Linked DNA regions of Homo sapiens: region 2 is linked to region 1. A link means that fine-mapping ties the variant in region 1 to the expression of a gene that starts in the linked region. Tissue or cell type: sun-exposed skin. Region 1 holds a variant in brackets; the other region holds the start of a gene. All regions are shown on one strand. Distances are between the middles of the regions.

Region 1 (4,125 bases):
CTTCCTGGGCAAGGATGCAACCAGCTGGCTCCAGCTGCAGGGCTGCCAGGCACCCCAAGGTGAGGGACAGGGGCCCAGCTCCTGAGAGGGCTGGATCACAGGGTCGGGACACTGGCCGCTGAGAAGGAGCATGGGCTGCTGGGTGGAGATGAGTGCGTGCCGTCACTGCAGAAGGTGGCCCACACCTGCCTCCCATCCGTTTGTGTCCTGTCTGTCCCCATGTCCGCAGCTGCAGCCGAAGCCATATGGTGTCACCAGTGCACGGGCTTCGGAGGGTGCTCCCATGGATCCAGATGCCTGAGGGACTCCACCCACTGTGTCACCACTGCCACCCGTAAGTGGGAACAGTGGTGGGCTGGCCACGTCCTTCTTGCCCAGGTGGGAAGATGTGGGCTCAGAGGGTGACAGAGCCAGATCCAGGCACCCAGTAAGTCAGAAGCATAGTGGGGAGTGTCCGCCAGTGATGCCCAGGGAAGGGTATGAGCAAAGGGCCACGTCTGCCCCAGGAGGGCCCGTATGCTTCATGTACCTGGGGCGTCTGACCCTCAGCTCAGTGGCAGATGGGGCAGCAGGGTCTGGGCAAACCAGAGCCTCAGGGAGCTCCATGGTTTCTCTCCTGCCCACTCAGGGGTCCTCAGCAACACCGAGGATTTGCCTCTGGTCACCAAGATGTGCCACATAGGCTGCCCCGATATCCCCAGCCTGGGCCTGGGCCCCTACGTATCCATCGCTTGCTGCCAGACCAGCCTCTGCAACCATGACTGACGGCTGCCCTCCTCCAGGCCCCCGGACGCTCAGCCCCCACAGCCCCCACAGCCTGGCGCCAGGGCTCACAGCTGCCCCTCCCTCGAGACTGGCCAGCCCACCTCTCCCGGCCTCTGCAGCCACCGTCCAGCACCGCTTGTCCTAGGGAAGTCCTGCGTGGAGTCTTGCCTCAATCTGCTGCCGTCCAAGCCTGGGGCCCATCGTGCCTGCCGCCCCTTCAGGTCCCGACCTCCCCACAATAAAATGTGATTGGATCGTGTGGTACAAGCTATGCAGTGAGAGTGGAGTCCTGCCATCCTGGGCTTGGGAGTAGAGTGGAGTAGATTTGGGGGTGCCTCGCTCCCTCACCCCAGGCTAAACCCTACTACCCCACCCCCACTTGCCCTTATCACGGAACAGGCCCTCCCGCCTCCAGCCAACTGTCAGGCCTGAAGGGCACGGGGGCCCAGGCACCCCGGGCAGCTGCTTCTCCTGAAGCAGCTAGAGTGGGAGTTGGGGCTGGGGCACATGAGGAGCCCTCCACCCCAGAGCGTGAGTTGGGAAACCTCAGAAAAAGGACACCCCGGCTGAGACATGGAGGCTGTGCGGGGTGGAGGAAGGGAGGAGGTGCCATTGGCAAAGACGGCTGCAGCAGGCCTTCTGGAATAGGGAGAAGAGTGAGGCGGCATCCTCACCCTCGCCCTCATACATGCCCCTGGGCCAGTGGCCCGGCCTGCCCCTCTCTAGGAAACCCCCAGTTCTGGCAGGGAACACCACCTCCAGCTCCTCTGGGCCACTGGGTACCCAGCACACAAGGCAGGGTGCTGGGGAGAGATGCTGGGAGTGGGATGAATCAGACTGAGGTGATGGGCAGCTGTGGCCACCCATCTCAGGGTGGACATGGAAACTAGGTAAGTGATGTTTGTGGAAGTTGATCACTCCCTAGGCAACATTGCGTCATGGCCGAGCTTCGGGCTGCAAGGTTGAATGAGACCCCCACATAAGCCTGGCACTCCCCTCGGAGAGGCCGAGGTGAGTCAATACCTGCAGCACCCAGATCCCCCCGACTGAGTTAGCACCTGCCAAGAAACACACCGCCAGGCCCTTTCCTTGGCCTTTCTTGTTCTCACCTTGGCAACGTTCTCATGAAGAATCAGCACAGGAGAAAGCTGATGCAATTGTTAAGCTGCTCCACAAGGAGGGGGTGTCTCAGGCAGGGCCGCC[G/A]GACACTCAGGTGCAGGACAACTTTCAGAGTAGCCCCGGGCACAGAAGAAGACATAAACAGGGTGCGCTGGAGATACCCAGATAAGCTCAAGAATTGAGGTGACAATGGAGCACTTCTCAGATCTGCAGGAGAGGGACAGGGCTCACTGGCAGCCGCCGTGGAGCACTGTGGAGAGAACAGGATAAGGCTGGATCATCACCTCTCTCGCTACAGCCAAAGGCATGCCAACTGAATGAGAGGTTTCGATGTAAAAAGAGGAGGTTTTTTAATGCTAGATAATTCAGAATAGAAAAGCAAGACACGTTCCTGAAAGGATTGGACAGAGTTGCTGTAAACACAGCAATTCCACCCCCGCCCCCCCACCTGGTCCAAATTCCACCCCCAGGCCAAATTCCACGCCCAGGCATGGCCCAAGAAGAGTAAACACGAGTCCACACAAAAGCCTGTGCACAAACATTCACAGTGGCATTATTCATAGCAGACAAAAGGCGGGAAAAACCCAAATGCCCATCAACTGATGGAGGGATCACAGAGATGACAGACCCACACCACAGAATGTTATTCAGCCACATAAAGGAATGAAGCCCCGACCCACGCCAAAACACGGGAGAGCCTTGAAAACACGCGGGGGGTGCTTGAAAACACGATGCTAAGTGAGACAGAAGCCGCGCACAACAGGCCAAGCAGTGTACAGTTCTATTTCTCAGAAGTGGCCGGAATAGGGAGCTCTATAGGGAGGAAAAGGAGATGAGTGGTTGCTAGGTGGTGGCAGGGATTATTAAGAAATACGGAAAGGCCGGGTGTGGCGGCTCACGCCTGTATTCCCAGCACACTGGGAGGCCGAGGAGGGTGGATCACCTGAGGTCAGGAGTTTGAGACCAGCCTGAGCAACATGGTGAGACTCCGTTTCTACTAAAAATACAAAAATTAGCCAGGTGTGGTGGCGCATGCCCGTAATCCCAGCCACTTGGGAGGCTGAGGCACGAGAATCACTTGAACCAGGGAGGCGGAGGTTGCAGTGAGCTAAGATGGTGCCACTGCACTCCAGCCTGGGCAAAGGAGCGAGACTCCATCTTAAAAAGCAAACAAACAAACAAACAAAAAGAAATAGGGAAAAGCCAGAGTACTTTTCCTGCTCTCACACAATACAGTACTTCACCCCATCACCAAAGTGTGTGTATTTCTCTCCACCAGCAACCAAGCCACACTGCCGTGGACACCAACTGGATGTCCTCAATTCAATTCCGACACCATTCCTGTGGCGGTCACGTCAGATCCCGCAGGTGGAGGGCTCAGTGCCACGCAGTGAGCCCCACTTCCAATGCCAGTCGCAAGCCCCAGGTGTGGCCCGTGCTTCTGACCAACCTGCCATGAATCAGGGTTCCCACAACCCCCTCCTCGGGTTTGATGACTTGCTGGAGCGGCTCATAGAACTCAGGGACACACTGAGCCGCGTTTACCCATTTATGACACAGGCTGTGACGAAGGTGTGGACGCACAGCAGGTGGGGGAGACGCGTGGGGCAGGCACAGGGAGGGGCTCAGAGCTTCCAGGCCCTCCCAGTGCCACCCCCAGACACCTGCGCATGTTCTGCTCTCGGAGGCTCCCTGAGCCCTGTCCTTTTGGGAAATTTACAGAGGCTTCATTACGTAGGCATGATGGATTAAACTACTGGCCACTGACCAACCCAACCTGCAGCCCCTCCCCTCCCCTGAAGGCTGGGGGTGGGGCTGAAGTCCCAGCTCTCTAATCCCGTTGTCCCTCATCCTGAAGCTCCCTGGGGACCCCCAGTCACCAGTCCTCTCATTAGCATACAAAAGATGCCCTTGCCACTCCAGAGATTCCAAGGGTTTTAAGAGCTGTATGTCAGGAAACCAAAATATCCATCTCACAATCTCACAAAATAAGCAATGTCAGAAAACCAAAATATCCATCTCACAATCTCACAAAATAACCACTTCACGTTCTCACAGTGAATGGAGCAAAGATAGCGCTGAAGCGTTCAAGGTTTCTTTTCAAGATGATGAAAATGGGCTAAAACTGCGAATATGGTAAAAACCACTGAGTTACCCACTGTAAACGGGTGGATTGTATGGTGCGTGAGAAACCACTGAATTACCCACTGTAAATGGGTGGATTGTATGCTGTGTGAGAAA
Region 2 (4,125 bases), 21 kb after region 1:
CCATCCACCCATCCATCCATCCACCCATCCATCCATCTATCCATCCCCCACCCATCCTCCACTCATCCCCCACCCGTCCACCCATACATCCTCCACCCATTCCCCATCCATCCCCCATCCATCCCATATTCATCCTCCACTTATCCATCTACCCATCCATCCACCCATCCATCCATCCACCCATCCATCCATCTATCCATCTACCCATCCAGCCACCTATCCATCCCACACTCATCCTCCACTCATCCCCCACCCATCCACCCATACATCCTCCACCCATTTCCCATCCATCCCCCATCTATCCACCCATCCATCCATCTATCCATCCCATATTCATCCCCCACTCATCCATCCACCCATCCATCCACCCATCCTCCACTCATCCCCCACCCATCCACCCATATATCCTTCACCCATTTCCCATTCATCCCCCATCCATCCATCCAATCCATCCCCCATCCATTCCATATTCATCCCCCACTCATCCATCTACCCATCCATCCATCTATCCATCCATCCATCTATCCATCCATCCCCCACCCATCCTCTATTCATCCCCTACCCATCCACCCATACATCCTCCACCCATTTCCTATCCATCCCCCATCCATCCACCCATCCATCCATCTATCCATCTACCCATCCAGCCATCTATCCATCCCCCACTCATCCTCCACTCATCCCCCACCCATCCACCCATACATCCTCCACCCATTCCCCATCCATCCCTCATCCATTCCATATTCATCCCCCACTCATCCATCCACCCATCCATCCACCCATCCATCCATCTATCCATCCATCCCCCACCCATCCTTCATTCATCCCTGACCCATCCACCCATACATCCTCCACCCATTTCCCATCCATCTCCCACCATCCACCCATCCATCCCATATTCATCCCCCACTCATCAGCTACCCATCCATCCACCCATCCATCCATCCACCCAACCATCCCCAACCCATCCTCCATTCATCCCCCACCCATCCACCCATCCATCCTCCACCCATTTCCCATCCATCCCCCATCCATCCAACCATCCATCCCCCATCCATCCCATATTCATCCCCCACTCATCCATCTACCCATCCATCCACCCATCCATCCATCCATCCACCTATCCATCCATCTATGCATCCATCCCCCACCCATCCTCCATTCATCCCCAACTTATCCACCCATACATCCTTCACCCATTTCCTATCCATCTCTTACCATCCATCCATCCATCCCATATTCATCCCCCACTAATCCATCTACCCATCCATCCACCCATCCACTCATGCATCCACCCATCCATCTCCCATTCATTTACCCATCCATCCCCCACCCATCTATCCATCCATCCCCTATCCATCGCCTATTCATCCCCCATTCATCCATCCCCCATCCATCCATCCATCAACTCATCCATCTATACAACCACCCATTGGGACATCACAGGACAGAGAAACCAGAGAGGCTGGTATACCTGGAAGGACTGTGGAGAGGGGCACCTTAGTGGGTCTCACAGCATGGGGAAGATGTGGGACATCAGATGGGAGACCAGGCAATGTGGTCATTGAGCGGTATGGCATAGGCAGGCATGCGTGTGGAACAGGGTGTCGTGGGGGGCACGCAGTAAAGAGCAGACAACACAGTCAGGCCAGGAGGCTGGAGGGTGAGCAGAACCTTATTGTCAGGCGCCTAAAATCAAGAAACTCAGGTTTGGTCTAAAGGCCATTAGTGGGAAGGGGCTGGCAGTGATGAGGGGCCACTCCTGGGCCCAACCTTGTCAGCCTGAGAGTGGTCTAGCTGGCCCATGCTACCCTCACCTGACACCTGCTTCCTACCTCTGGTTTCTACTTTGCAGGTGTGTATCAGGTGTACACAGACCAGGTAGAGGTCTGTGGAGAGGGCTGCAGGCCAGGCTGCAGGGAAGGGGTGCCAGGCGGGGCTAGAGCAACAAGGGCAGAGGCTACACTGAACCTGGGTCTTAAGGGTCCCCCAGGCTGGGGCTGGGTGGCCTATGTGAACCCCAGAGGCACAGCCAGGACATGGGGGCTCATCAGAGGGGCAGTCTGAGCTCAGCAGGAAAGGCCTTCTCTGTCAGAGCTGTCCCAGGACCACTGGACATGGCTGAGGAACAGTGAGTTCCCCAGTGTTGGAGGTGTGCAAGCAGAGGCCTGGCCATCGTCCTCAGACAGAGCTCCCAGATCCAGCTCCCTGCCCGTCTGCCATGTTCCTGCCAGCTGCCTCCCCACTGGGCCCTTTACCACGTTCCTGACTCACACGGCCGGTTCTGCCACCGCCCAGAAGCCGGTGCCCAAGGGCCTGGGTATAAATCCTTGATGTGAGGCTGGCTACCTCTCATCACTTCTGAGCACGGAGCAATGGCCTCTCGCTGGGCTGTGCAGCTGCTGCTCGTGGCAGCCTGGAGCATGGGCTGTGGTGAGTGGGCCGCAGGCTGGTGGGGACCCTGCCTCTGAGCTTGTCTGCCCACCTCCTAGGGGGATGGGGCTGTTGGGGGTGCTTTGTGGCTGAGAGCCTCCTTAGGCCTCCATGAGGCTCACCCTCCTCATTCTCAGTGAGCCTCCTGGGTCCCAGAGCCCAGCTTCACCCTGGGACAGGGGTCACGGCTCCACTCTGCAGGAAGGGAGACTGAGGCTTGGTGGAGGGATGCAGCATTCAAGTCTGTGGCTCAGCTCAGTTAGAGAAAGCTGCCAGAGAGGCCCCTTGAAGGGCTGCCCGGGGCCTTGAAAGATGTCAGCGAGACTCCTTCAGCCCCTGCCTCCTGGTTCCAGGATGAGGCCACCGAGGTCAGGTGATGAGGTTCTGCCCCCATCCCTCACCCAGGTGAGGCCCTCAAGTGCTACACCTGCAAGGAGCCCATGACCAGTGCTTCCTGCAGGACCATTACCCGCTGCAAGCCAGAGGACACAGCCTGCATGACCACGCTGGTGACGGTGGAGGCAGGTGAGGCCAGGCCCCACGGCAGCCCTGGGTGCACTGGAGTCAGGGCCACCTCCCCCAAGTGCCTCCCTCCTTTGCTGGTGCTCCTCCCGGCCCAAAAGGCAGCAGGTGGGATGGGCAGAACAGGCTGCCACACCTTGGCAGGGGTGCCTTCCACGAGGGTGGCACAGCCCCCTCAGAGACCCAGTCCTGGGGCACCAGGCGCTGGAGGTGGGTGGGGCTTAATGGCCGGGGTACCCTGGGGGGCTCAAACCCCAGCTCTGACACAGACCCACTGGGTGGTGTTGCCACAGCCTCTGGGCTCGGGCTCCCATCTCAGCGCAGGCACTTCAGAGGTCTGACAAGGCCTAATAATTCATGAACAGGTCACAGTCAGAGGAGGGCTGGGCCCTGGGTGGCTTCACAGATGTGGACTATTGGGAACAGGGATCACAGGGAGGGTGAGGTCAGGCGACGGCGGCTGGGAGCAGTGCAGCAGCAGGCAGGCGCTGCAGGGGAGTGAGGGTTCTGACACTGGCCCACCCTGCAGAGTACCCCTTCAACCAGAGCCCCGTGGTGACCCGCTCCTGCTCCAGCTCCTGTGTGGCCACCGACCCCGACAGCATCGGGGCCGCCCACCTGATCTTCTGCTGCTTCCGAGACCTCTGCAACTCGGAACTCTGAACCCAGGGCGGCAGGGCGGAAGGTGCTCCTCAGGCACCTCCTCTCTGACGGGGCCTGGCTCCACCTGTGATCACCTCCCCCTGCTTCCTGCTGCTGTGGCACAGCTCACTCATGGGGTCTGAGGGGAGAGAAGCACACCAGGGGCGCCCTCTGCCTTCCATACCCCACGCTTATAAAACATAACTAAGCCAAGAGTGGACATGACTTTTGTCCTTCCTGGGCACTGACACCCTACAGAACTGGCCTTCAGGAGAGCCAGGCTGAAGGACAGCACATTCTAGGCACCTGCTCCTCCCTCTCACCCAGAGCCTCTGTGACCCATTTCACAGATAGGAAAACAGAGACTTAGGGGAAGAAATGCCTCCTGGGCCCCTTTCCTGATGCAAACTAGCCTGGCATCTCAGACCAGGACCTGTACCCTAGCCCAGGGAACATCTCCCGCTAAGAATCTCCCCTGTAAACCCTGGAGACATCGCTCCCACCCTAGAGAGGGAAGGAAGCTCAGAG

Evidence for each region. PIP is the estimated chance that this variant, and not a neighbour inherited with it, causes the effect.
Region 2: SLURP1 starts here. The variant in region 1 is the best candidate, but not a certain one, in a credible set for the expression of SLURP1 in sun-exposed skin (GTEx, PIP 0.71).

What each region holds. Positions count from the first base shown.
Region 1 is chr8:142,761,245-142,765,369 of GRCh38, reverse strand. It overlaps LYNX1-SLURP2 (LYNX1-SLURP2 readthrough), which reads left to right. Exons shown (of 5, transcript NM_023946.5): 4 at 230-334; 5 at 629-1,032. The coding sequence ends at 765. It overlaps SLURP2 (secreted LY6/PLAUR domain containing 2), which reads left to right. Exons shown (of 3, transcript NM_177458.3): 2 at 230-334; 3 at 629-1,032. The coding sequence ends at 765. SLURP2-AS1 (SLURP2 antisense RNA 1) reads right to left here and starts at 2,305. Exons shown (of 2, transcript XR_007061134.1): 1 at 1,875-2,305. The variant G/A (reference allele first, on the strand shown) is at 1,969.
Region 2 is chr8:142,740,636-142,744,760 of GRCh38, reverse strand. It overlaps SLURP1 (secreted LY6/PLAUR domain containing 1), which reads left to right and starts at 2,355. Exons shown (of 3, transcript NM_020427.3): 1 at 2,355-2,433; 2 at 2,839-2,958; 3 at 3,485-3,812. The coding sequence starts at 2,376. The coding sequence ends at 3,618.